Regions from separate parts of the Homo sapiens genome. Here regions 1 and 2 are each linked to region 3. Evidence: fine-mapped expression QTL. A gene starts in region 3. Each other region holds a variant in brackets. All regions are shown on one strand. Distances are between the middles of the regions.

Region 1 (8,462 bases), 250 kb before region 3:
GATTGAACAGACAGGGCTGCTAAATCTGTGGCCAAATGGCCCTCCCTATCCTTTTTATACTCAATTTATTAATCTGCCCTTATCCCTGTCTAACATTATTGATTATCAGGCTAGTGCCTCACAATGTGAAAAAGGATAAATGGATATTAAAGGGTGCCAAACAATTATCAGATGGGTTGTATACTGGGCCAAATAGACCCCCATAGCCCCTTTCCTTTTAACTCTTTGCCTTGCACTTATCTCCCATCAGATGGGATGTATATGCAAATGGGGAATAATTAATAAATTAAAAGATAGTTGGTACTGCCCTGGGAACTATAAAATTTATGGCCAAATTATTTCCCAGTGCACTATTTATAAATATCACCAAATCTCTAGAGGAAACCAATATTCCTCAGGAAGCCCCCAAAGGCCCATGTTGCCCCTTGCCGCGCTCCAAATAGACTTTATGGATTTACCTCCAGCTTTGTGCTTTTCTCACTGCTCCATTATTTTTCTGCATGTTCAGTGGGTGGACTGATGTTATCCAACTAGGTGTGCTGATGTTACAGCTGTGGTAAATAAATAAGTAGCAGATTATTCCTCATTTTGCTATTCCCTTATGGATTGGGTCAGACCCATGGACTTATTTCACAGCAGAAATAAACCACTTGCTTGCAGAGGCTCTGGGGTACTCATTAAAATTTTATACCCCACATCATCCCCAATCCTCAGGGCAAGTGGAACCTAAAAATTTAGACAGAAAAAGAATTTTGGGAAAATTTTGTCAAGATAGTGGACTTAAATGGCCAGAAGCATTATCTCTGGCCCTTATAAAAATCTCTAACACTTCAAATAGGAGACAGGGATTAGCCCCTTTTAAAATAGTGTTCAGTCACTCCTTACCTACTGACACCTCTAAACCTTCTCTTCTTGGGCTGAATGAACACCATGGGGATTTTTATTAAAAATTTTACTTTACGTTCTGGGATACATGTGCAGAACGTGCAGGTTTGTTACATAGGTATACATGTGCCATGGTGGTTTGCTGCGCCTATCAACCCATCATCTAGGTTTTAAACCCTGCATGCATTAGGTATTTGTCCTAATGCTCTCCCTCCCCTTGTCCCCCACCCCCCGACAGGACCCGGCATGTGTTTTTCCCCTCCCTGTGTCCATGTGATCTCATCTTTCAACTCCCATTTATGAGTGAGAACATGTGGTATTTGATTTTCTGTTCCTGTATTAGTTTGCTGAGGATGATGGCTTCCAGCTCCACCCATGTCCCTGCAAAGGACATGATCTCATTCCTTTTTATGGATGCATAGTATTCCGTGATGTATATGTGCCACATTTTCTTTATCCAGTCTATCATCAATCGGCATTTGGGTGGGTTCTGTGTCTTTACTATTATAAATAGTGCCACAATAAACATACGTGTGCATGTCTCTTTATAGTAGAATGATTTATATTTCTTTGGGTGTATACCCAATAATAGGATTGCTGGGTCAAATGATATTTCTCGTTCTAGATCCTTGAGGAATGGCCACACCGTCTTCCACAATGGTTGAACTAATTTACACTCCCACCAACAGTGTAAAAGCGTTCCTATTTCTCCACAGCCTCACCAGCATCTATTGTTTCTTGACTTTTTAATTGAAAGGTGATTAAAGATTGCCTGAACTTATCTCTCTCATACTCCCTTTGATCTTTCGCTGTGACTCTTCTTTTGAACTGTGCTTTGCTTTTACTAATTCTTGCTATTTTTCTAGACGGTCGGGCACAAACCCTTTGCACCAGTCTTTTAAATCCTGACAACATTAGTCAGTCTAATTTTGGTTATGCCAATATCTAGATGATGCAAAAGAACCTGAAATTATTTTTGTTTCTGCCAGTATGAGCACCTGGTGGATTCAGTCTAGAAGATGGATGTATGACAAGATATGGCATCCAGAACCAGAGAAACAAAGTCACATTGCCTCTCTTATGGTAAGTCAACTGGACACAGAAAAGCCACCATGGAAGCTCAAAACTGTCTTTTGCTTAGATAAAATTACTAGAAAGAAAATTTTCCTTCTGCATTGAAAACAGGAATGATGCTGGACCCTTGCTAGGTGACATACTAGGCAATATTGCAATCAGACCTTATAGTTTGATTCCACAGATGGCATTCTTGCACTTCTTACACAGACCATAGGTGGTCCTGATGCTGACTCATGAAATCAATATTTATCAAATCACCAGATGTTATGGATGGCTCACAAGCCAGCCCTGGTGTGCAACTTGGGGTAGCTTACCTGTCAGATACTAAAGATTACATATGGATAGACCCAAAGTCTGGACTGATTTGGCTAGGTGACAAAACCAAGCCCTATAACAGCCAAAACTAAAGGTCTTTTATATAAAATATTTCACAACCTGTTTTGCTCCCACAGATTGACAGGGAGACATGATAGCTGCAGATGTGGAAATGCCAATAACAAAGAAGACAAGGCACAGCAAACTTCAGGCTGAGGCGCCACAGGCTTCACCCTGACCCTATCTGTAAATAACAGCGGCCTTTTAATATTGCGTGGTAACAAGATATACAAGTGGTTCCCACCTAGATACTCAGGGTGCTGTGGACTCAGTTATCTGACATCCTCTGTTACTAGGTACTCCACTTTAAATGGCAGCCAAATTACAAATGGGCCTTTTTGTTCATAAAGTGGTGCCACACAGAGGTAATGAATGTGACTTTGTAAAAAACCCACCTATATATCACAAATCTATGTTCTTTTCAGTCCTCAGAACTTTTCCCCTGGCATTTGGAACTTAAGAAAATGAAAGGGCAGTTTAAAATCTTTCCATGGCAATAGAACAAGACTTCAGTATCACTACCCAAGCCTTGGGAGCACTCCAGTCAGAAGTCAACAGTCCAGCTTCTGCTGTACTTTAGAACTGCTGCAGCCTGAATGTGCTGACAGCCCAACAGGGAGGAGCTTGTGCAGCTATTGGTGACAAATGCTGTTTCTACATAAACCGCTCAGGGCAAGTAGAGACTGATCTGCACCTCTTGAAGGTCAAGGTAAAATATTATCCATCAGGTAAACAAGGCTAAACTGTTCTATTGGTCTGACCTATTCCTGGGAATGGGAGACTGGTTTAATGGGGTGTGGGGAAGTGTGCTTAGATATGTTCTTTTCTCATTTTAATCTATGTTCTTTTCTTCCTTTTCAGATCTCTTACTACCCAGCTACTAAACCAACTTCTCTCTCCAGAGCCACTAACTTAGGATTTTTTTTTTTTTTTTGAGACAGAGTCTCACTCTGTCACCCAGGCTGGAGTGCAGTGGTGTGATCTTGGCTCACTGCAACTTCCGCCTCCCAGGTTCAAGCAATTCTCTGCCTCAGCCTTCCAAGTAGCTGGAATTACAGGTGCCCGCCTATAATCCATACCCAGCTAATTTTTGTATTTTTAGTAGAGACGGGGTTTCACCATCTTGGCCAGGCTGGTCTTGAACTCCTGACCTCATGATCCACCTACCTTGGCCTCCCAAAGTGCTGGGATTATAGGCATGAGCCACCGCGCCCGGCCTAACTCAGCTTTTTATGTGTGAAACTTCTAGGGGAGTTCCAGACAGGGAGAATGAATAAGCTCCTTGGTATAATGTATATTTTGAATTAAAAGACTTTATAAATCAACAGGCCTCAGAAGAAACTTATCCCCTAACTTCAAAAAGATCAGATAGGCCCATCAAGAACAATTGCCTTTTCTTCCCTTCCCTGTTATCTCACTATTTCAGGAAAGAAGAGGAAGAATATAACCATACCAGAACCAACCATTTTACAAAATAATACCTGTCTCTCAGGTTCTTTTAACTTCCAAAGAAAACCATTTACAAGTCAATTTCTGTTCTCACCTTCCATTCATTCTCCTAAGTACCTATTCATTTTTCCTTAGTAATTATTTAATGCCCCTCAACCAGAATTACCTCTATATTCCCCATCTTCCCCCTCCCCTCTGAAAGAGGTTATAGAAGTGTCTGGGCCCTGTTGGGAAATTGGGTAATCACTCTATGATTCTTCTCGAGCACATGGTTAAATAAATTTGTATGCTTTTTGTCCTATTAATCTGCCTTACTGTAAATTGATTTTTTTCAGCAAACCCTCTGAGGGCAAGGGGAAAGCTCCTCCAATGCCCATACACAAGTGAAGAAGATCAAGAAGAATTTATCACAAACCTGCCTTGCTATACAAGTGTCTGATGTACAAAAGACTGAAGTGAAATACTTGTTAGCACCAATAAAATATAACTCAGTGACAAATTTTCTAAAAAGAACTTTGTATCTAGGATTGATAGGCTTGGAAAAATCTTACAAACTTTTCTTCAACATCTGAAAGTGTTTTTCAGTCTATAGTAATTGTCAGGCCTCTGAGCCTAAGCTAAGCCATCATAACCCCTGTGACCTGCACGGATACATCCAGATGACCTGAAGCAACTGAAGAACCACAAAAGAAGTGAAATAGTCAATTCCTGCCTTAACTGATGACATTCTACCACTGTGATTTGTTCCTGTCCCACCCTAACTGATCAATTGAGCTTGTGACATTCCTTCTCCTGGACAATGAGTCTCAGGAGCTCCCCACCGAGCACCTTGTGACCCCCACCCCTACCCTCAAGAGAAAACCCCTTTAACTGTAATTTTCCACTACCTACCCAAATCCTATAAAACTGGCCCACCCCATCTCCCTTTGCTGACTCCTTTTTCAGACTCAGTCTGCCTGCACCCAGGGAATCAAAAAGCTTTATTGCTCACACAAAGCCTGTTTGGCCGTCTCTTCACACAGACGTGTGTAACAGTAATAATATTATTTTATTTTTTTGAGACAGGGTTTCACTCTGTTGTGCTGGCTGGAGTACAGGGGTGTGATCATGGTTCACTGCAGCCTCAACCTCCCTGGGC[T/G]CTAGTGATCCTCCCACCTCAGCTTCCTGAGTAGCTGGGACCACAGATGTGCACCACCACACCCAGCTATTTCTTGGTAGAGATGTTTTTTTGCCATGTTGCCCAGGCTGGTCTTGAACTTCTAGGCTCCAGTGATCCACTTGCTTTGATCTCCCAGTGTTGGGATTACAGGCATGAGCCACCATGCCCAGCCCTTAGTAATAATTTTAAAAAGTCTTTTAGTTTGAAGTTTTTGATAGCCTGAGAACTGAGGCAGCATCTTCTTAAATTATTCTTGTAAAATCTGTGGGTTTGAAGTTTGATTAATGAGAACACAATGTGTTTTTCCAATGCTTCATATAGTGTCCCTTGTTCACATTCCTGTTTTATTCTTACTGCTTGTGTTCTTTATTATGGCTGGATTGGTACTAGAAAAAACAAACCTTGTTTGTGTATGAGTGTGGATGTGTCTGACAAGTACTTGAAATGTGACTTACATGATTTTGCTGTTTTTCTTTTTCATGAAATATTAAGGTGGGAAAGTTGACATTTTGCTTTTAATTCAACATAATATGATGTGAAGAATTTCCAAATAAGATTGTTTTCATGTAAGACTCATGGCCTAGATGCAATTAAAATAATAAAATAAAAATAAAATATGATTATTAAAAACTATTTTGCTTAATGTCAAACATGCTGGTATACTAAACAATTCTACAAATATTAATTTTGATTAGTCTTCCTCTTAATTTTATTATTTAAAATATATTATCTTTTTGCTCAAAAGGATATAATATTCTTTCTAAATTCAAGTAGCCAATGTACTCTTTTCATATTTGTATTAACCAACAATCAATTTATTGAATGATTTAAAAGTTCTTAAGAACTATTTTTATACATAAATGAGTGGATTTTGTAATCATCATTAATCCTTGCTGTGTCAGGGGTCCCGAAGACTACCATTAGATTTGATGATTCTCTGGAAGGACCCACGGAATTCAGAAAGGCTGTTATAGTTACACAGTTATAGTTTATTACAGGAAAAGAAAACAGATTAAAACCAGCAAACGAAAAGGTGCGTAGGCAGAATCCAGGATAAACCAAGAATGAGCTTTCAGTTGTCTTCTGCTGGTGGAGTTGAATGGATAGTGCTTAATTCTCCCAGCAGTAATGTGTGATATCATTTTTTTCTTTTTCTTTTTTTAAAAATTTTATTTTTCCATAGGTTATTGGGGTACAGGTGGTGTTTGGTGATATGAGTAATTTCTTTAGTGGTGATTTGTGAGATTTTGATGCATCCATCACCCAAGCAGTGAATGGCACCCTATTTGTAGTCTTTTATCCCTCACTCTCCTCCTACTCTTCCCCCCAAGTCCCCAAAGTCCAGTGTATCATTCTTATGCCTTTGCATCCTCATAGCTTATCTGCCACATAACAGTGAGAACATACAATGTTTGGTTTTCCATTCCCGAGTTACTTCACTTAGAATAATACTCTCCAATCTCATCCAGGTCACTGTGAATGCAATTAATTCATTCCTTTTATGGCTGAGTAGTATTCTATCTATCTATCTATCTATCTATCTATCTATCTATCTATCTATCTATCTATCTATCTATCTATCTATCATCTATCACAGTTTCTTTATCCACTCATTGACTGGTGGGAATTTAGGCTGGTTCCATATTTCCTCAACTGTGAATTGTGCTACTATAAACAAGCAAGTGCAAGTATCTTTTCCGTATAATGGCTTCTTTTCCTCTAGCTAGATACCCAGTAGTGGGATTGCTGGATCAAATGGTAGTTCTACTTTTAGTTCTTTAAGGAATCTCCACACTGTTTTCCATAGTGGTTGTGCTATTTTACATTCCCACCAGCAGTGTAGAAGTGTTCCCTGATCACCTCATCCACTCCAACATCTACTGTTTTTTGATTTTTTGATTATGGCCAGTCTTGCAGGAGTAAGGTGGTATCACATTGTGGTTTTGATTTGCATTTCCCTGATCATTAGTGATGTTGAGCTTTTTTTAATATGTTTGTTGGCCACTTGTATATCTTTTTTTGAGAACTGTCTATTCATGTCGTTAGCCCACTTTTTGATGGGATTGTTTGTTTTTTTCTTTCTGATTTGTTTGAGTTCATTGTAGATTCTGGTTATTAGTCCTTTGTCAGATGTATAGATTGTAAAGATTTTCTCCCACTCTGTGGGTTGTCTGTTTACTCTGCTGACTGTTCCTTTTGCCATGCAAAATCTCTTTGGTTTAATTAAGTCCCAGCTATTTATCTTTGTTTTTATTGCATTTGCTTTTGGGTTCTTGGTCATGAAATCCTTGCCTAAGCCAATGTCTAGAAGGGTTTTACCAAGGTTATCTTCTAGAATTTTTATAGTTTTGGGTCTTAGATTTAAGTCCTTAATCCATCTTGAGGTGATTATTGTATAAGGAGAGAGATGAGGATCCAGTTTCATTCTCTTACATGTGGCTAGCCAATTTTCCCATCACCATTTGTTGAAAAGGGTGTCCTTTCCCCACGTTATGTTTTTGTTTGCTTTGTTGAAGATCAGTTAGCTGTATTTGGGTTTATTTCTGAATTCTCTATTCTGTTCCATTTTTCTATGTGCCTATTTTTATACCAATACCATGCTGTTTTTGTGACTATGGCCTTATAATATAATTTGCAATCAGGCAGTGTGATGCCTCCAGATTTGTTCTTTTTGCTTAGTCTTGCTTTGGCTATGTGGGCTCTTTTTTGGTTTCATATGAATTTTAGAATTTTTTTTTCTAATTCTGTGAAGAATGATGGTGGCATTTTGATGGGGATTGCATTGAATTTGTAGATTGCTTTTGGTAGTATGGTCATTTTCACAATACTGATTCTACCCATCCATGAGCATGGTTTGTGTTTCCATTTGTTTGTGTCATCTATGATTTCTTTCGGCAGTGTTTTGTAGTTTTCCTCGTAGAGGTCTTTCAACTCCTCGGTTAGGTATATTACTAAGTATTTGTTTTAATTTTTTTTGCAGCTATTGTAAAAGGGGTTGAGTTCTTGATTTGATTCTCTGCTTGGTCGTTGTTGGTGTATAGAAGAGCTACTGATTAGTGTACATTAATCTTGTATCCAGAAATTTTGCTGAATTATTGTATCAGTTCTTGGAGCCTTCTGGAGGAGTCTTTAGGGTTTTCGAGGTAAACAATCATATCATCAGCGAACAGTGACAGTTTGAATTCCTCTTTACTAATTGGATGCCCTTTATTTCTTTCTGTTGTCTGATTGCTCTGGCTAGGACTTACAGTACTATGGTGAAGAGGAATAGTGAGAGTGGGCATCCTTGTCTTGTTCCAGTTCTCAGAGGGAATGCTTTCAACTTTTCCCATTCACTATTATGTTGGCTGTGGGTTTGTCATAGATGGCTTTTATTACATTGAGGTATGCCCCTTGTATGCTGATTTTGCTCAGAGTTTTAATTAAAAGGGATGCTGGATTTTGTCAAATGCCTTTTCTGCATCTATTGAGATGATCATGTGATTTTTGTTTTTAATTCTACTTATGTGGTATATCA
Region 2 (8,462 bases), 35 kb before region 3:
GTGAAGAAACCTCTTTTTGCCCATATAACAGCATGGTGGTTCAGGATATGGACGGCATATTTAGAGTCAGTATAAATATTGATGTGTACTCCTTTTGCAAGAGTGAGGGCTCAAGTTAAGGCAATGAGTTCGGCTTGCTGAGAGGTAGTGGAGGGGGGAAGAAAGTATATGCATCAGATGTGAGGAAGAAAATAGATTTTGGAAGTTATGACAACTGCAGAGAGTGAGTTGAGCATAGTTTGTGATTTTGAGGACCTCTAAAAGTATTAAAGCAGTGGTACCTGCCACATGCAGACATGAGGGCTAGGCTAAAACAGTAACGTCAAGTTGTTTGGACAGAAAGGCTAAAGGGCGTGGTCCCAGCTCTTGTGTAAGAACTCCAACTGCACAGCCCTGCACTTCAGCTGTGTGTAGTGGAAAGGGAGTGATAAGTTAGGGAGAGCTAGTGTGGGAGCTGTTTTTTAAGGAATGGATAGGGGAGTGGAGAAAGGATTTAGGATCTATGGGGTCAGCTAGGTTTACCTAGAACAGAATAATGGGTTGTGGAGGGAGGTATTGAGGATAGGAGAGTATATGAGGTTTCACACCACAGGGTGGATACGCAAAACAATTTGGTTGATAAGGCACAGATCCTGACGTAACCTGTAAGACTTGTCCAGTTTCTGGACAGGTAAAATGGGGGAATTGTAAAGAGGGTTTATAGGCTTTAAAAGGGCATGCTGTAACAGGCAAGTGATAACAAACTTTAATCCTTTTAAAGTTTGCTGTGGGATGGGGTATTGGCATTGAGTGGGATAAGGGTTATTAGGTTTTAATGGGATAGTAATGGGTATGTGACCAGTTGCCAGGGAGGGAGTAGAGGTGTCCCATACCTGTGGATTAAGGTAGGGAGATACAAGGGGAGGATTTGAAGGAGGCTTTGAACTGGGGAAAAGGGTGGCAATGAGGTGTGGCTGTAGCCTAGTCAGGGAAGCAGATAATCTAGTTAAAATGTCTTGGCCTAATAAGGGAGCTGGGCAGGTGGAGATAACTAAAAAGGAGTGCATAAAAGAATATTGTCCAAGTTGGCACCAGAGTTGGGGAGTTTTGAGAGGTTTAGAAGCCTGGCTGTCAATACGCACAACAGTTATGGAGGCAAAGGAAACAGGCCCTTTAAAAGCAGGTAATGTGCAGTGGGTTGTCTCCATATTGATTAAGAAGAGGAAGGACTTACCCTCCACTGTAAGAGTTACCGAAAGCATCTGTGATGGTCCAGAAGGCTTCTGAGGCAAGTGGGCAGTGTCAGTCTTCAGCCACTGAGCCAAGAAGATCTGGGAAGGAGTCAGTCAGAGAGCCTTGGGCCAGAGTTCCAGGGGCTCTGGGAGTGGCTGCCAGGTGAGTTGGACAGTCCGATTTCCAGTGGGGTCCTGCACATATGGGACACAGCTTAGGAGGAATCCCAGGCTGTGGGCATTCCTTGGCCTAGTGGCCAGATTTCCAGCACTTGAAACAAGATACTGGGGGAGGAGGTCCTGAAGAAATGCCTGACTGCTGTGGCTTAGGCGTTTTGAAGTTCTTGTGTGCTGGAGATGTGGCTGGAGTTTCTCTCACAGCAGCGGCAAGTAATTGCAACTCTTCTGTATTATTGTACACCTTGAAGACAAGGTTAATTAAGACCTGTGTGGGGTTTAAGGGCCAAAATCTAATTTTTGGAGCTTTATTTAATGTTGGGAATGAATTGCGTAATAAAATGCATATTGAGAATAAGACAGCCTTCTGACCTTTCAGGGTCTAGGGCTGTGAAGCGTCTCAGAGTTGCTGCCAAATAAGTCATGAACTGGGGTGGGTTTTTACATTTGATGAAAAAGAGCCTAAACACTAACTGATTTGGGAGAGGTCGGATAAAGAAAAAGGAGCATTAACCTTGACTATGCCTTTAGCTCCAGCCACCGATTTAAGAGGAAATTGCTGGGCAGGTGGCGGGGGCTAGTCGGGGAAAGAAACTGTAAGTCGGACTGGGTGTGAGAAGGGGAGGTGATAGAAGGATTATAGGGTGGGGGAGCAGAGCCTGAGGAAGAATTGGAGCCTGATTCAGCCTGGTGGGGAGCGACCTGAGGAGGAGCAGTCTGGGGATGAGGGGAGAGGTCAGATGGGTCTGTAGAAAAGGAATATTGAAAAGACTCAGTGATGCTTGGGGTTAGGACTGAGGGGAAGGGTGGAAGGGAAAGAAGGAGGATTTGGGATGAGTCACATTGGGAAAAGAGACTAGAGAGGGACCCATGTGTAAAAGAATGCATGGACCTCAGGCACCTCAGACCGTTTGCCCATTGTACGACAAGAATTATCTAGATCTTGTAGGATGGAAAAATTGAAAGTGCCTTTTTCTGGCTATTTGGAACCATTGTTGAGTTTGTATTGGGGTTAAGCAGCATTGCAGAAGAAAATAAGGCATTTAGGTTTCAGGTCAGGTGTGAGTTGAAGAGGTTTTAAGTTCTTGAGAACACAGGCTAAGGGAGAAGAAGGAGGAATGGAGGGTGGAAGGTTGCCTATAGTGAAGGAGGCAAGCCCAGAGAAAAGAGAGGGTAGAGACACGGAGAGAAGGGGTGGGGGGGTGTTTGCACCCTAGGAAACTGGTGTTTGTCACTAAGGGTGAAGGATCAAGGCAGGCATCCCTGCGGTGATCAGGCATCTCTGAAACGTGGGTGAATAATCAAGCAGGTGTCCCTGCAGTGATTAAACACCAAGGGAAATCTGTCTTCCCAAGTCCCTGACCGGCACCGGAGTTTTGGGTTCATGGATAAAACACATCTCCTCTGTCTCTACCAGAAAAGGAAAGGAACTGAAATTAAGAGAAGGGAGAGAGTGAAGGATGGTGCCAAGATTGAAAGGAGAAAGAGGTTGAGGGATAGTGAGAGAGGTTGGAGAAGGCAGTAAAAGGAGGCCGCTTACCCAATTTAAAATTGGTGAGATGTTCCTTGGGCTGGTTCATCGGAGGACCAGAGGTCGTAGGTGGATCTTTCTCATGGAGTAAAGAGCAGGAGGACAGGGGATTGATCTCCCCAGGGAAGTCCCCCGATCGAAGTCACAGCACCAAATGTCACGGGCGTCCGTGTGAAGAGACAACCAAACAGGCTTTGTGTGAGCAATAAAGCTTTTTAATCACCTGGGTGCAGGCAGGCTGAGTCCAAAAAGAGAGTCAGCAAAGGGAGATAGGGGTGGGGCTGTTTTATAGGATTTAGGTAGGTAGTGGAAAATTACAGTCAAAGGGGATTATTCTCTGGCAGGCAGGGGTGGGGGTCACAAGGTGCTCAGTGGGGGAGCTTCTGAGCCAGAAGAAGGAATTTCACAAAGTAATGTCATCTGTTAAGGCAGCAACAGGCCATTTTCACTTCTTTTGTGATTCTCCACTTGCTTCAGGCCATCTGGATGTATACATGCAGGTCACAGGGGATATGATGGCTTAGCTTGGGCTCAGAGGCCTGACAGTTTGGATCTGTGTCCTCACCCAAATCTCATGTCAAACTGTAATCCCCATTGTTGGAGGTGGGGCCTGGTGGGTGGTGATTGGATTACTGGGTAGAGTTTTCATTAATCGTTTAGCACCATCTCCCCTTGGTACTGTATAATGAGTGAGTTCTTACAAGATCTGGTCATTTAAAAGTGTTAGCACCTCCCCTTTCCTTTGTTCCTCCTGCTCATACCATGTAAGATGCCTGCTCCCACTTTGCTTTCCACCATGAGTTAAAGCTCCCTGAGGCCTCCCCAGAAACTGATGTTGCCATGCTTCCTGTACAGCCTGCGGAACTGTGAGCCAATTAAACCTCTTTTCTGTATAAATTACCCAGTCTCAGGTATTTATTTATAGCAGTGTGAGAATGGACTAATACAGTTCTTTAAATGAAATATTGTCAGATATTTCTGTTCTCTTGTGACAAGATAGCCTTAACTTTCCCCTCAGCTTGACCAAATAGGTTTCTTCCTGACTTCAGGCCCTTGACCTCCCTTAAGAATATTTGCTTTAGAAAATTTGCTGTAGTTCTTTCTATTTCTTGAGATCTAAATCTTCTTCCAGCCTCTTCCCAGTTTTACAACTCAGGAATATCTTTCTCTAGGACCTGAGAACCACCTCTTTGAAATGTTAACATCAAGGAAGATAGTTCCCCTGTCTCCTGGTTTCTGTGGGTGGGAAGGGTAGGAAACTTGGAGTGGGGGGGCTTTTTCCAAATTGTGAAACTATCTTTTATCATGAAATAGGAGAAAGTTCATTTTGTTCTTTTGGTATGGGGAATTAGTAAACACAGATGGTTTAAAAATTTTTCCACCCTAGCCCTTTTGTCTCTGCCTCACTACGTATCAGACTCAGTTTGTGCCTTCTCCCCTAATGCTGGCAATAGCACCAGAACAAAATCAACTTCTG[C/T]TTATCATGTCTGGTGTAATTTTTTCCTTTAAACTTTTGGTTATGATTTCCCTCAAATTCCCTCAAGTCCCTCTCTTCCTGTTTTTTTTTTTTTTTTCTTTTGTCTCACAATTTATTAGGCAGCCAAATAATATACTTCTGGAAATGCGTGCATCTTACTTCTCCCATTCTATTAATATTAATATTTTCTCAGGGGAGAAATGTGTCCAAGATGCTCTGAAACCACATACTGCCTAAGAGAGCACTGCATGTGCTCAAGCCCTGTTTATTGACAAAACATTTAACTTCCAAAGCAAACTACAGCTGTTAGTTAACTTTAAAAACATGCCATGATTTAAAAAAAATATTTGTATTGTTTTCTGCCAACAGAAATAGCATTTTTTCCCCCCACAATGGCTAGGAGAAGAGACTCTGAATCCTACTTATCTCTTTTTCTATAAAGATGCAAAATTTTGGGTAGAGAAAGAAACTGGATTTAAGGAGGAGTCTCCAAGTTGATTTCTTCAAAGGAGGTCTCAAGAAGAAAAATAGGACTCCAGTGTTGTAGAAGATTTTCTGGAATTTAGTTAGGAATACAGGGATGAACAGAGGTGCAGAGGGAATCCTAGTGTGAGATGTACCATGCTTTTAGAGCCAGAAAGTGAGGTGTCCTTCCTCTCTTCACTTGGGCCTTTTGAAAGTATTAGAAAAAAACTTGTCCCCTAAACTTGATCCTGAAGTCTCCTAACTGCCCTTGGCAATGTCAAAGCTTGGGAGAAAATTAAGGCTTTGTTCAGTTTACTATCATCCACATTATATATTTTAATACACACATAGTAGAGAAACCAGTGTACAGAGAAATGAAGAGATGTGCCTAAGGTCTTTGTGCATGCAGCTTGTGGCAGCATTAGGATGTGGATTCCAAATCGCTCAGTCTGGTCTTCCTCCCCATGTACCATGCTGCCTTTCTCCTGCAGAGTTTGGGGGTTTGGAGGACCAAGGAGTAGGGGCTGGATGTTGAGGGCAGTGCAGTTTCCTGCAAGAGGTGGCTTTTAGTTTCTTCTTTGAAGCCAATTCTGTCAGACCACATGCTGTTGTGGTGGTGGAGAAAGCCTGCAATGGGAATAAAAAAGATACATATCATGCATTTTTTAAACAACTTTGGGTACTGAGGTTGGTAGGAACTTTCATACCTCAGCTGTGGAAATGTTTCTCAGTATTATAAGTGACATTTAAAGTTATTAGCAGCAGCAGCAAAGAGTCATGTGACTTGGGGTTTCTGCTCTTTTCATCATGAGGTGAGATTCCTGCAAGAGTTTACCTCTTACTGTTTAATACTTATAAAGGCATACATTTATACCTTTATTTTTTTGTATGGATTGCTGAACACTGTTGGAGAATATCACTAAACCACTATCAATTCATGTTCTGCACCTTGAAATGAGCCTAACATTATTCACCTATTCAACTAGCAATGCATTTTCTATTAATAAGTATTTCTCTTGTTTTTTCTACATAGTAGAATTCTCAAATTTTTACCATTCCTTTCCTGACTCACACTTTTTAGTAATGACCCCACAGGAAAAAGAGAGAAAGAAATAGGCAGAATTTTTCTTGACTTCCTCTCCAGATGACCAATATAACCATATTGACACTTAAAATTTTTTTCCATTTTTTTTTCCCTTTAATCTCAGAGAAATATCTGTCACACTACTTTATGGCTAGCTACACCCTCCAAAAGTGCCTTGAATCTCATCTCATCCCAGTTCTCAGTGACTTCACACCATTAACATCCCTGATATAGTTTGGCTCTGTGTCCCCACCCAAATATCATGTTGAATTGTGATCCTGAATGTTGGAGGTGGGGCCTCATGGGAGGTGATTGGATCACAGAAGCAGATTTCCCCCTTGCTGTTCTCATGACAGCGAGTGAATTCTCATGAGATCTGGTTGTTTAAAAGTGTGTAGCTCTTCCCCCTTCTCTCTCTCTCCTGCTGACCATGTGAATATGTGCTTGCTTCCCCTTCCCCTTCTGCCATGAATGAAAGTTCCTGAGGTCTCCCTAGCCATGCCTCCTGCACAGCCTGTGGAACCATGAGCCAATTAAACCTCTTTTCTTTACCCACTCTCAGCTAGGTCCTTACAGCAATGTGAGAAGAGACTCATACAATTCCTTCCCTCCTAAACCATAGCCTTTCCCATTCTATTGATTCTTTCCTTCCAGGGAAATATTTACTGTATGCTTAAACTTTCACCATCCTAGAAAAAAATTATTTACCTACTTTCTTTTCAACATTTCTTATTCACTTTTCATATTAATATTTTAAAGCCTTGTCACCCAAATAAAAATATTCTTATCAAGGTTAGTAATTGTTATCTAGTCACAAATACAATGGTATCTTTGCATTTTCCTTCCTATTGGATATTTTATGGTAAATGTTACTGAAGACTACACCCTCCTTCTTGAGAGAAACATCACTTGGTTTCTATTTGCAACCTTTTTCTAATCAATATTGCTCCTTTATATACGTTGTTCCTTGATAAAACTTTAAATATTAATATTTCTAAGTTGTTTTTTTTTTTTTACTTCAGATTCTGATTCTGCATACTTTCTTGGGTGAACTATCTTTCCTCATGCCGTCACCTATTATAAGTAAGCCTTGAACTCCAAAAAGCTCAATTCCTAGATTCCTTTATCCAAACTGCCTTATGGACTGTTGTTTGAGTTTGCCCTCCAAAATTCATGTTGGAATTTAATTGCCATCGTGATAGTATCAAGAGGTGAGGTCTTAGGGAAAAAATTAGGATTAGATAAACTCATCAGGGTGAGGCCCCATGATGGGAATCTTGGCTATATAAGAAGAGGAAGGGAGACCTGAGATGGCATGCTCTTGCTTTTTTACCATGTGATATCCTCTGCCATGTTATGATGCAGAAAGGAGGCCCTCACCGGATGTGGTCCCTCAACCTTGGACTTCCCAGCTCCCAGAACTGTAGTAAATAAATTTCTTTTATAAAGTAAAATACCTAGTTTGTAATGTTCTATTATAGCAACAGAAACCAATGAAGACATGAACCTCTTTATCACAGTATTTTAGAAGTACCTTACACTCACCATGTTCAGATATGAACTCATCAGCTTTTTCTAAATAGTCAAACAAGATGACTAGATACTCTTTCAGTACAGTGTTAATCTTGACTTTCTATTTACACTGCTATTTTATAGTTTTGCAAGAGCAGAGATTACCTTAGTGATTTATGTTGGGTAGAGATGCAAATAATTTCCATCCAGTGGAACCAGTAATCCCAGAGATAAAGTTTATGCTGTTATTGGATATTAACCAGTTTTGTATCTAATATGGCAATCTGTTAAATTCTCTCTCTGTATAAACTGACTTCTCAAATAGTCTTTGGACCAGGTCAAGCATATTGCTGGTGCCTTCAGTAATTAATGAATTGAGTAAAGTCTTTGAACATGTTTATCTACATTTGCATGAGAGTCATTATTTTACCTTTTTGAAAATTATACTTTAATATATTTGCCTTCCAAATTGTTATTCCTATTTTTACTTCATTCTTAATAAAATGATATTTACATCCATTTAGTTGCCCAAGAGGAAACCTGTATGCCCTATCTTTCTTTCTGTTCCTTATTCCATTTTTCTTCCCCAAACACAAGTCTAATCGGTCCTGGCTTAGATATTTTACCTCCTGAATATCTCAAAATCTCACTCGTCCTCCCCTCTATTCCCACTGCCTTCAGCTTGTTTCTGATCATCACATTTCTCCCTAGGTTTCTGCAGTAGATTCTTAAATTATTTTCCTTACTCTGCCGGCTTCCTACCCAGTCCATCTCCCATACTTCTACCAGAATAATCTTTCTAAAAGACAAATCTAATCACATCACTTCCTTTGTAAATTTTTCAGTGGATTCCTACCTTAGACTAAACCAAAACACTTAAAATAACATAGGAGACTCTGTTTTATAACTTCCTTTCTATTTATCTTTCTTATTTTCAGTTTTGATCTTTCTCCAGCACATCCCCTTTCTCCCACTAGGCATAAGGTGTAGTTTCCATAAGATATT
Region 3 (8,462 bases):
TGACTCGAAGAATATCGCCTATTTCTAGTCTCTGTTTTCCCAGGGAAGCAGGTGGGGATTCACTACACATTGACACGGGCAAGTCAAAGGTAGGTAGTCATAATAACTGAAATGTATAGAGTACTGCATATTTATCCATAAAACTTTCCTGTAAACTGCTTAACTTAATCCTGACAACCACTTTAGAGCTGATTATGGTTACCTGACCCTCACAGAGATACGTTATTTGTCCAAGGCCACATCCCTGTAGTGCTGAGATTTAAACTCAAGTTGGTCTGACTCCATGTTATATAGTTTTTCCACTGACATTAGAATAAGAAAATGGCCCAATGTCACCATCCAATGTAATTTGGGATTAAAAAAAAAGGAGAAGTTATTTTAGTAAATTCTCCATTTTGCATCTATGTAAGCTCTCCATCTTATAGTCTAGTAGAGAAGAAGCACCATAAACACAATGTAATTTATATTTGGTTCTGTGACAGTCTTAGTGCAGGAAGTGTTGCTTTGTTTGTGTTATTAGAATAATTTCCTTTCTGACTCCAGCTAGGTGATTATGAAGCAGTTTAGCCTTCCTCAGGCTTACAGAGTGGTTTTTTTGGCAAGGGCCCACCTAACTTCTAGTTGGGAGGAGAGAATCTGCCTGGAATTCCGCATTACTTTCAGGTTGTTGTGGCATTCAGAATATTTCATAACGGTTTGGGGCACCACAGAGCAATGAGAGCTGATACCATCACCGCCCTGTGGTGGGGCCCCGCCCGGTACATGGCTGATGTGGCCTTGAATTTCTGGGGCCTGTCTGGGGAGTCTTGAGGAAAGAGCTGGGATAGCTGGGCTGGTCATGGGCACTCAGAGGGCTTGGGAAAGTGGATAATTATCATTAGTAGACATATTTTAATATTTTAGCAACTATTAGCCTACCAGTTTGCACCTGACAAATATCAGCTCTGCTTACAGATACTTCACCATGGGGCAATTTTCAAGGGGCTCAGTAAGGATGACCAATGCTTCTTTTTCTTTAAAGTTCAGAGTGTTATTTAGAAATTAAAGAAAAGGAAAACTGTAGAAAGAGTTTGGGCCTTGGAATCAGAGTAAGCCTAATTTGGAATCATAGTTCTGTCTGCTTTCTGCATATTTGTCCTTGGTAACACTATCTTTTCTTCTATACCTAAGTTTCTTCTTTTTCTTTTTCTTTTGTCTTGCTGTGTTACTCAGGCTGGTCTTGAACACCTGGCCTCAAGCAATCCTCCCACCTTGGCCTCCCAAAGTGCTGGGATTATAGGTGTGAGCCACCACACCTAGTCTATACCTAATTTTCTTCATAAAATAGATACTGTGCCAAACTAGTTGGGTGATTGGCAGTTGTAATCAGGTAACACATATTAAGTCCCTGATGTATAAAGGTGGTGCTTAATAAGTGATAGATATGATTATGATTATGAATCTCCCCTCAGTCTAAGATGTTCACTAAAGTTGAAACATCTTGAGGAATAAGGAAGGAAAGAAGGAAGGAAGAAGGTGAGAATTGCAGGGTACAGTTGACAGTATAAAATCAAGATGGTGAAAAAGATTTTTTAAATCTGTGTTAAGCAGAGATAAAAAGTAAGCAATGAAAAGTCTTTCTTTCCTGGGGCCTGTCCTAGGGTGGGGGGAGGGGGGAGAGATAGCATTAGGAGATGTACCTAATGTAACTGACGAGTTAACGGGTGCAGCACACCAACATGGCACATGTATACATATGTAACAAACCTGCACATTGTGCACGTGTACCCTAGAACTTAAAGTATAATATATTAAAAAAAAAAAGTCTTTCTTTCTTACCTAATTCCCAAAGGGACCAGAGAGATTACCTAATCCTGTTCACTCATTTTGTAGTTGAGGAAACTGAAGAGAGAGAGAAAGGAGGGAGAAAGAGAGAGAGAGAGGGAGGGAGAAGCAGGCTTGCCTGGAGTCACAAAGAATATTAGTGGTTTTAAATGGGAACCAAACTCACAAGTTCTGAGTTCCAGATGCATGCTTTCTTCCTTTATATCATACAGCCTTCCTCCTGCCACACTTGGTTTCCAAGGCCCAGTCCCAGGTTTGCCTTTAGTGCTCTAGGGGACATGTATGAGACAGACCTCTCTTCTCTTCTGTCTGTTTTGTACCTATGCCCCAAGCAGTGCCTGTGAGTTGAGACTGAGAGTGAGAACCAGTGTGGGAGGAGAGAAGAAGGAAATGGGGTTTCCATGATGTGGCCCATAAGACCTTCTGCATCCACAGCCAAGATATACATCATTACCATCGCAGAGCTGCGGGAAATCCCAGAGTAGCTAACATTTCTCTGTTCATGAACTGGACAAACTCCACCTCAACCCAGGTGGATTGTCCCCCATTTGACATACCCCAATCTGCAACAAATTCTCACATTCCTTCATAGAACTGTCTTCTAGCTCCTAACCCTCTTCCATGTCACTCAGGTTGGAAGATCATCAGAACAAGAATTTCCCTGAGTATAATATTTGAGCATTCTGAGACTTCTATTGTCTAAGGAGCAGTTCAATCTGTTCGGGGAAAAGGAGAGATGTTACTTGGTAAATAACAGAAAGAAAAAATGCCCATTAGTCAATAGAACTCCTATTCCCCTCCCTTTTCATACTCTTTCTCCCACAAATAAGCGTAGCTGAATAAATACTGAAAGAAGACCATCTAAGACCTTTTTCCTCTCCTTCCCTTTCTTCCTTACTTCCACTTTTAGGATATGAATTTTAAGAAAGGCTTGTATAATTGCTACAGGAAATATTAAAGTTGTGGATTTGGAAAAAAAATTAATCGCTTGTTCTCAATGTAGGGAGACATCAAATATCTTCATTTGAATGGGCAATAAAGACATCAAGAATAAGAAACAGCAGTTTATCTGAGCTGATTTATAGATGGCTTCATCAAGAGAAAGTAGGGAGAATGAGCAGATTTCTCAACCATTGTGTTAGCTCTGTGAATTCGTATCTTTAATTCTTCAGTTTCATTTCCTTGGTAATAAGCTCTGTCCTGCATATATTCATTTTTCTTCTTTCCTGCTTTTCTTTTTCAATATCTACACACTCTCTTCTCCTCGTCCCTCTACTTATTTGACTGAACTCTTTTCTCAATCTGAAATCTGTGTTTAGGCCATTCTGCATCAGGCCTGGGTGTTGTAAGGCACACAGTACTGTGGGTACTGGAATATCCACTTTGGTCTTGTGCCTTAGGTGGAAAAGAGAACAGTTGTCAGTTTGCAGGTGGAAATAAACGTGTGATCTTTTCCCCTTACTGTAGCCCAGAAGGAATCTTGTAAGTCACAGCATTGGCTGAGACGAGACCTCCATACTAGAATCCAAATCAAACATTGAACTGAAAATGACGGTTGGGGCTTCATGTTCACTACATAATGCTGAATCGCAGGGTTCCATCTTAATTTTCAAAAAACCCAAGAGTTATGAGAACATGTTGGTAGCGTGGTTGTAAATGGTTTCTAAACACCCTGGGGTGCATGCGAATAACTCAGATGTTAAATTGCTTTCTATCCCTTCTGCTATATCTTCAGCTTGTTATTTCTGATAATAGTCCAAGTAGAGACAGACAATAAACCTGACTTCCCTTCTTCCTACTAACACTTCATGCTGCAAGACAATATTGTGAGATCTTTATCTCTAATCACTCAGCTGAACAACTATTGAGTCTGATACTTGGACACACAAGTTGAAGGTTCCTACCTCCAACCTCCCATCCTAGGTACTGCCCTGCACCATCTAGAAAGTCTCCTTACCTCTCTACTCAGGACCATTTGTGGTATACAGAGTCACTAGTACTTCCCTGGATATCTCCTGTAAATGCTCACAGTCTTGTCAAATCACTTCTGTGGAACTCTCCTTTCTTGTCCTTGCCCTGCCCTGGGGACCCACCCTTTTTCTTCCACCCACTGGTGAGCTTAGTGGCACAGAAGGGGCATGGGAAAACCCCAGGGTGGAGGATCTTTCCACTCCTCCATCTACCCCAAAACTCATGTAGGTGGTGATATGCTCTGCCTGCTACCACTGGGGCAAGGGGTGTTGGAGGAGCATGAAGCCCCCAATATTATGTAGGTCACTGAGAAGGCAACACATCCATCTATCTATCTTTGAGATGTGAACCCTGAAATCTGGTCCTGATGGTGGCTATCCATCTATCTTGAGCCTCCCGGTGAATTTGACCTTACCTCACTCAAGTGTGTACATCCTCCCTCGTAGCTGACCTCAATATATCTTGCTGCAGTTTATCTCAACAAGTTTCTTCTACAGCTTCTGAAGAAAGAGGTCATACCCACAGAAAGCAAAGTTGATTTCAGCCAGGTACTCTCAATGGTTGGAGCTATGGACACTAGAGTAGGGCCTGAAATGAAACCGGGAAACTTCTTCCTTGAGAACTTTTCGATGTTATAATCAGATGGAAATTGCAGCAACAATGAGTTCAGCAAGACACAGAGAAGAACTTTGCAGGTGAGAAAGGTGAAAAAAAATTCCTAAAATGTTATTCAAGTCATCAAAGAGACCCAAGTTTTGAGAATCTAGAAAGATTACCTCTCTGATAATAAAGAGAAAACAAACAAACGAAAGCAAAAGGGCACCCAGCATCGTTCTCCTAGGCATAATGATGGATGCTTTTAAGGTTGAAGTAAGAGTGGTGGGAGATTTTCTCTTGATTTTCCCTTGACTTGACAGCCTGATTTTTCTCTGACATGTTTCCTTCTTTCTCCTAGCATCACCCTAAATCAGTACAGCCTTGAAACTGAGATAAAGGCTGTGCTTACCTGTCTGCTGGTAGAAAGCTGAGTTTGAGGCAAAGCAGTTGTCGAAGCTGGGCCGAGGCCTTCACAGGTGTGGGCACAGAGGTGAAGCAAGTGAGAAAGTATCATGTTGTAGATTATGCCTTTCTCCCTGAACTCATTCAACTGCTGTTGCCTGCTCAAAAGGGGAAGCGGAAATGAGAACACACCACACACACACACATCCACACATGTAGATGCAGTCCCCGCCTCCTGGCCCAGCCACATCCTTTGCTCCGGCTCAGGAGACTGAGCGAAGGACAAACCATCCGTAGACACGGTGCTCACAACTAGGAAGACCTTCCTGCCCCAGAGCTGCCTCTGTCTTTCCAGAAAAACAGGAGATCTTTTCCTATTAAGGCAAAGGTACAGTCCATTTAAAGAGGTGTGTGCAGGAGTCTTCCTACCATATAACTAGAATTCCACTGCTGCAGATAAATCCTTCTGTCCTCAGGAGAGCTGTCTGAAAATGGGAAAGCTCTCTCTCATAAATGATCTGGCGTTTATCTCAGAGAAGAAGTTTCCAGTCGTATCACACACTTGAGAGGGCTCTGAGCCAGTCGCTCTGTGTTGATAACTTTCATACTCTGGTAAATTCCCCCGAAGCTTGTTTTTGAATACTGACTACTTTTTTTTTCTGTTAGTTTCTTAACTTTGTTTTATGTTCAAACCACTTCAAAGTTTTTGTTTTTGTAGTAAATGACTGCTTTCCCCAACGTTTTCAAAGCTGAACTTTTAAAATCGGTTACACCCTGAAGATGTCTTCAGTTTATTGGTTTTCAGTTTGGAAAAGGCTTGTTGAACTCTAAAAGGTTTCTCCCAGGCCTCAATCACTTTCACCCACCGGGAGCATCCAGCACTGCTAACTATCCCTCCTCGCTTCTCCAGTATCTCTGAACACTCTTCTCCGTAGGATGCTGCTGCATTTTGGATATCTTCTTTCTGTCTCTCTCCTGATTCTACTGTTTCCTTCTTTAAATCATTTATTTATGAATGTATATCACAATATTTATTCTACAAGGCACTCCTCTAATGTGTTAATTGTGACTGATTTTCACATGTTCATTACCTTCTTTCTGATTTTTTGGCTATAGGTATAGTTAGATTTTTTTTTTACCATGTTTCTAAATTCCATTTCCAATCATCAATGGGACAACTCCATTGAGTATCCATAGTATAGCTATAATATGGTAGAAATAATCCTAAATAAAATTCTTGCTTGGCAAATTAAGTTCTCAAAACATTATTTTCTTCAAGTATAATGTGAGGAAAATAACAATTCTCTCTGTTTCTCACTCAACCCTTCTCCCACGCTATTCCTTTTACGTAGGCATGAAAATATCTAACATATTTTCTCAGGACATAGTAGATGCTAAATATGTGCTTCTCTGAGAATTAGCTTCACAGTCAACAAGTAAAATGCTAAATCCAACACGCCCTAATTCTCTTTATTTACTATTCTTTTCCGTACAAATTAACTATAAAAGCTGAACTAATGGAAACTTAACAACTCTTTTAAATCCTAAGTTTCTAGAATTCAATGTTTTCCTTAACAGTTGTTTTCCAATATGTTTGGGAAATGGAGAATATAACTTCGGTAGGGAGTTTGGAAATATGTGAGAGAGATTTAATTTTCAAAGAAATGGGAAGCTGATACTGGTATTTAGTACCTGAGGGCCAATGATGATAAGTGCTTTTGAAGGGATGGGACTCTTCAGTATAAGGAATAATTGTCCTGGCCCAAATGTCAACATTTTGTTAACATTGATAGTTTGATGGTTAGGAGAGCAGGCTTTAGAGTGAAGCTCTGGCATCAAGTAGCTCTGTAGTCTTGGATACGTTAACATCTCTAGGTCTCAGTTTGTTAGCTGCTAAATGGGGATAACCTTACAGGAGTGGTTGTAGAGCTATAAGAATAAAGGAATACAGAGTATTCAGTCCAGCGCCTACCTTACAGCAAATGCTCAAGAAATTGCAGCTATTTTTAAGACTCTTGAAATATAATAGTTTCTTTTAACTTTTATTTTAAGTTCAGTGGTACATGTGCAAGTTTGTTACATAGGTAAACTCCTGTCATAGGGGTTTGTTGTACAGATTATTTCATCACCCAGGTATTAAGCCTAGTACCCAATAGGTATTTGTTTTGATCCTCTCCCTCCTTCCACCCTCTACCCTCCCATAGGCCCCAGTGTGTGTTGTTTCCCTCTATGTGTCCATGTGTTCTCATCATTTAGCTCCCACTTATAGGTGAGAACATGCGGTATTTGGTTTTCTGTTCCTGTGTTAGTTTGCTAAGGATAATGGCCTCCAGCTCCATCCATGTTGCTGCAAAGGACATGATCTCATTCTTTTTTATGGCTGCATAGTATTCCATGGTGTATATGTGCCACATTTTCTTTATCCAGTCTATCATCACTGGGCATTTGGGTTGATTCCATGTCTTTGCTATTGTGAATAGTGTTGCAGCAAACATACATGTGCTCGTGTCTTTATAACAGAATGATTTATATTCCTCCAGGTATATACTCGGTAATGGGATTGCTGAGTCTAAAGATATTTCTGTTTTTAGGTCTTTGAGCAATCGCCACATTGTCTTCCACAAGGGTTGAACTAATTTACACTCCCGCCAACAGTGTATAAACATTCCTTTTCCTCTGCCACCTCGCCAACATCTTTTATTTTTTGACTTTTTAATAATAGCCATTCTGAGTAGTGTGAGATGGTATCTCATTGTGGTTTTGATTTGCATGAAATATAATATTTTCAGTTTCTGCAGAATACTATGTCTATCTGTCAAAATTACCTCACTCATTAAAGATACCATTTCACAAGCAATTGCTAGAGATTTTTTTGTTAATAAAAAAGATGTATTAATTTTTGGTTTTTATTTATATTTATTCTTAATTTTTATGAGTACATATGTAGGTTTATATGTTTATAGTATTTGTGATTTATTTTTTGAAAGAAATATTTTTCTCTTCTACAAGCAGCTTCTGAAAGACAAAGATGAAGACTATATGATTCCTAGGAGGAGGAGGCGGCCCAGGGTATTCCTCTGTTTATCTTCTTTCTCAGTTGTATAGTCTTTCTCTTTCTTTCTTTGTTTCTTTCCTTCTTTCCCTTCCTTCCTTCCATTCCTTTTCCTTCCTTCCTTCCTTCCTTCCTTCTTTCCTTCCTTCCCTCCTTTCCTCCTTCCCCTTTCTCTTTTTTCCCTCTCACCTGCCCTTCCCACCCTTTGAAAACATTGTCTCTATATCTTTGGCACCATGAACTTCTCTGAGCATATATTCCAGGTGCTTCATGAAAACAAAATGACTTGTTCTTTTTATACGAGACGCAGTAGTTCAGGGTTTCTGAAGGTTTTTTTGTGAGCTTGTTCATTTTTTTTCCCTTGGTTAAAAATAAAAACCCTTATGCTAACTGAGATAATGAATTAGCTCTCTACTGCCTATGTGATTCAGCAGTTTGGTGCCTCATGATAGGGCCTATTTGTCATTCCATGGCTCCCTCTCTTGTGTTTTATAGAATTTAGTAAAAACCCTGAACTAGGGGTAAAAGAGCAATCTGAGTTTAAAACTATACTAGTTACTTAATTTCACTGGATATCGGTATCACCTTCTGACAGAGAAATATTTTCTAAGATCCT

Evidence for each region. PIP is the estimated chance that this variant, and not a neighbour inherited with it, causes the effect.
Region 1: its variant is the best candidate, but not a certain one, in a credible set for the expression of TESPA1 in blood mononuclear cells (TOPMed, PIP 0.66).
Region 2: its variant is the best candidate, but not a certain one, in a credible set for the expression of TESPA1 in CD4 T cells (CEDAR, PIP 0.76).

The regions. Positions count from the first base shown.
Region 1 is chr12:54,731,821-54,740,282 of GRCh38, forward strand. No RefSeq gene overlaps it. Among named protein-coding and RNA genes, the nearest start is that of DCD, 88 kb to the left of the region's middle. The variant T/G (reference allele first, on the strand shown) is at 4,925.
Region 2 is chr12:54,944,903-54,953,364 of GRCh38, forward strand. It overlaps TESPA1 (thymocyte expressed, positive selection associated 1), which reads right to left. Exons shown (of 11, transcript NM_001136030.3): 11 at 3,113-5,488. It also overlaps the pseudogene LOC105369778. Among named protein-coding and RNA genes, the nearest start is that of TESPA1, 36 kb to the right of the region's middle. The variant C/T (reference allele first, on the strand shown) is at 4,397.
Region 3 is chr12:54,979,784-54,988,245 of GRCh38, forward strand. It overlaps TESPA1 (thymocyte expressed, positive selection associated 1), which reads right to left and starts at 4,979. Exons shown (of 11, transcript NM_001136030.3): 1 at 4,802-4,979. LOC107984515 (a long non-coding RNA gene) reads left to right here and starts at 5,068. Exons shown (of 2, transcript XR_001749161.2): 1 at 5,068-5,182.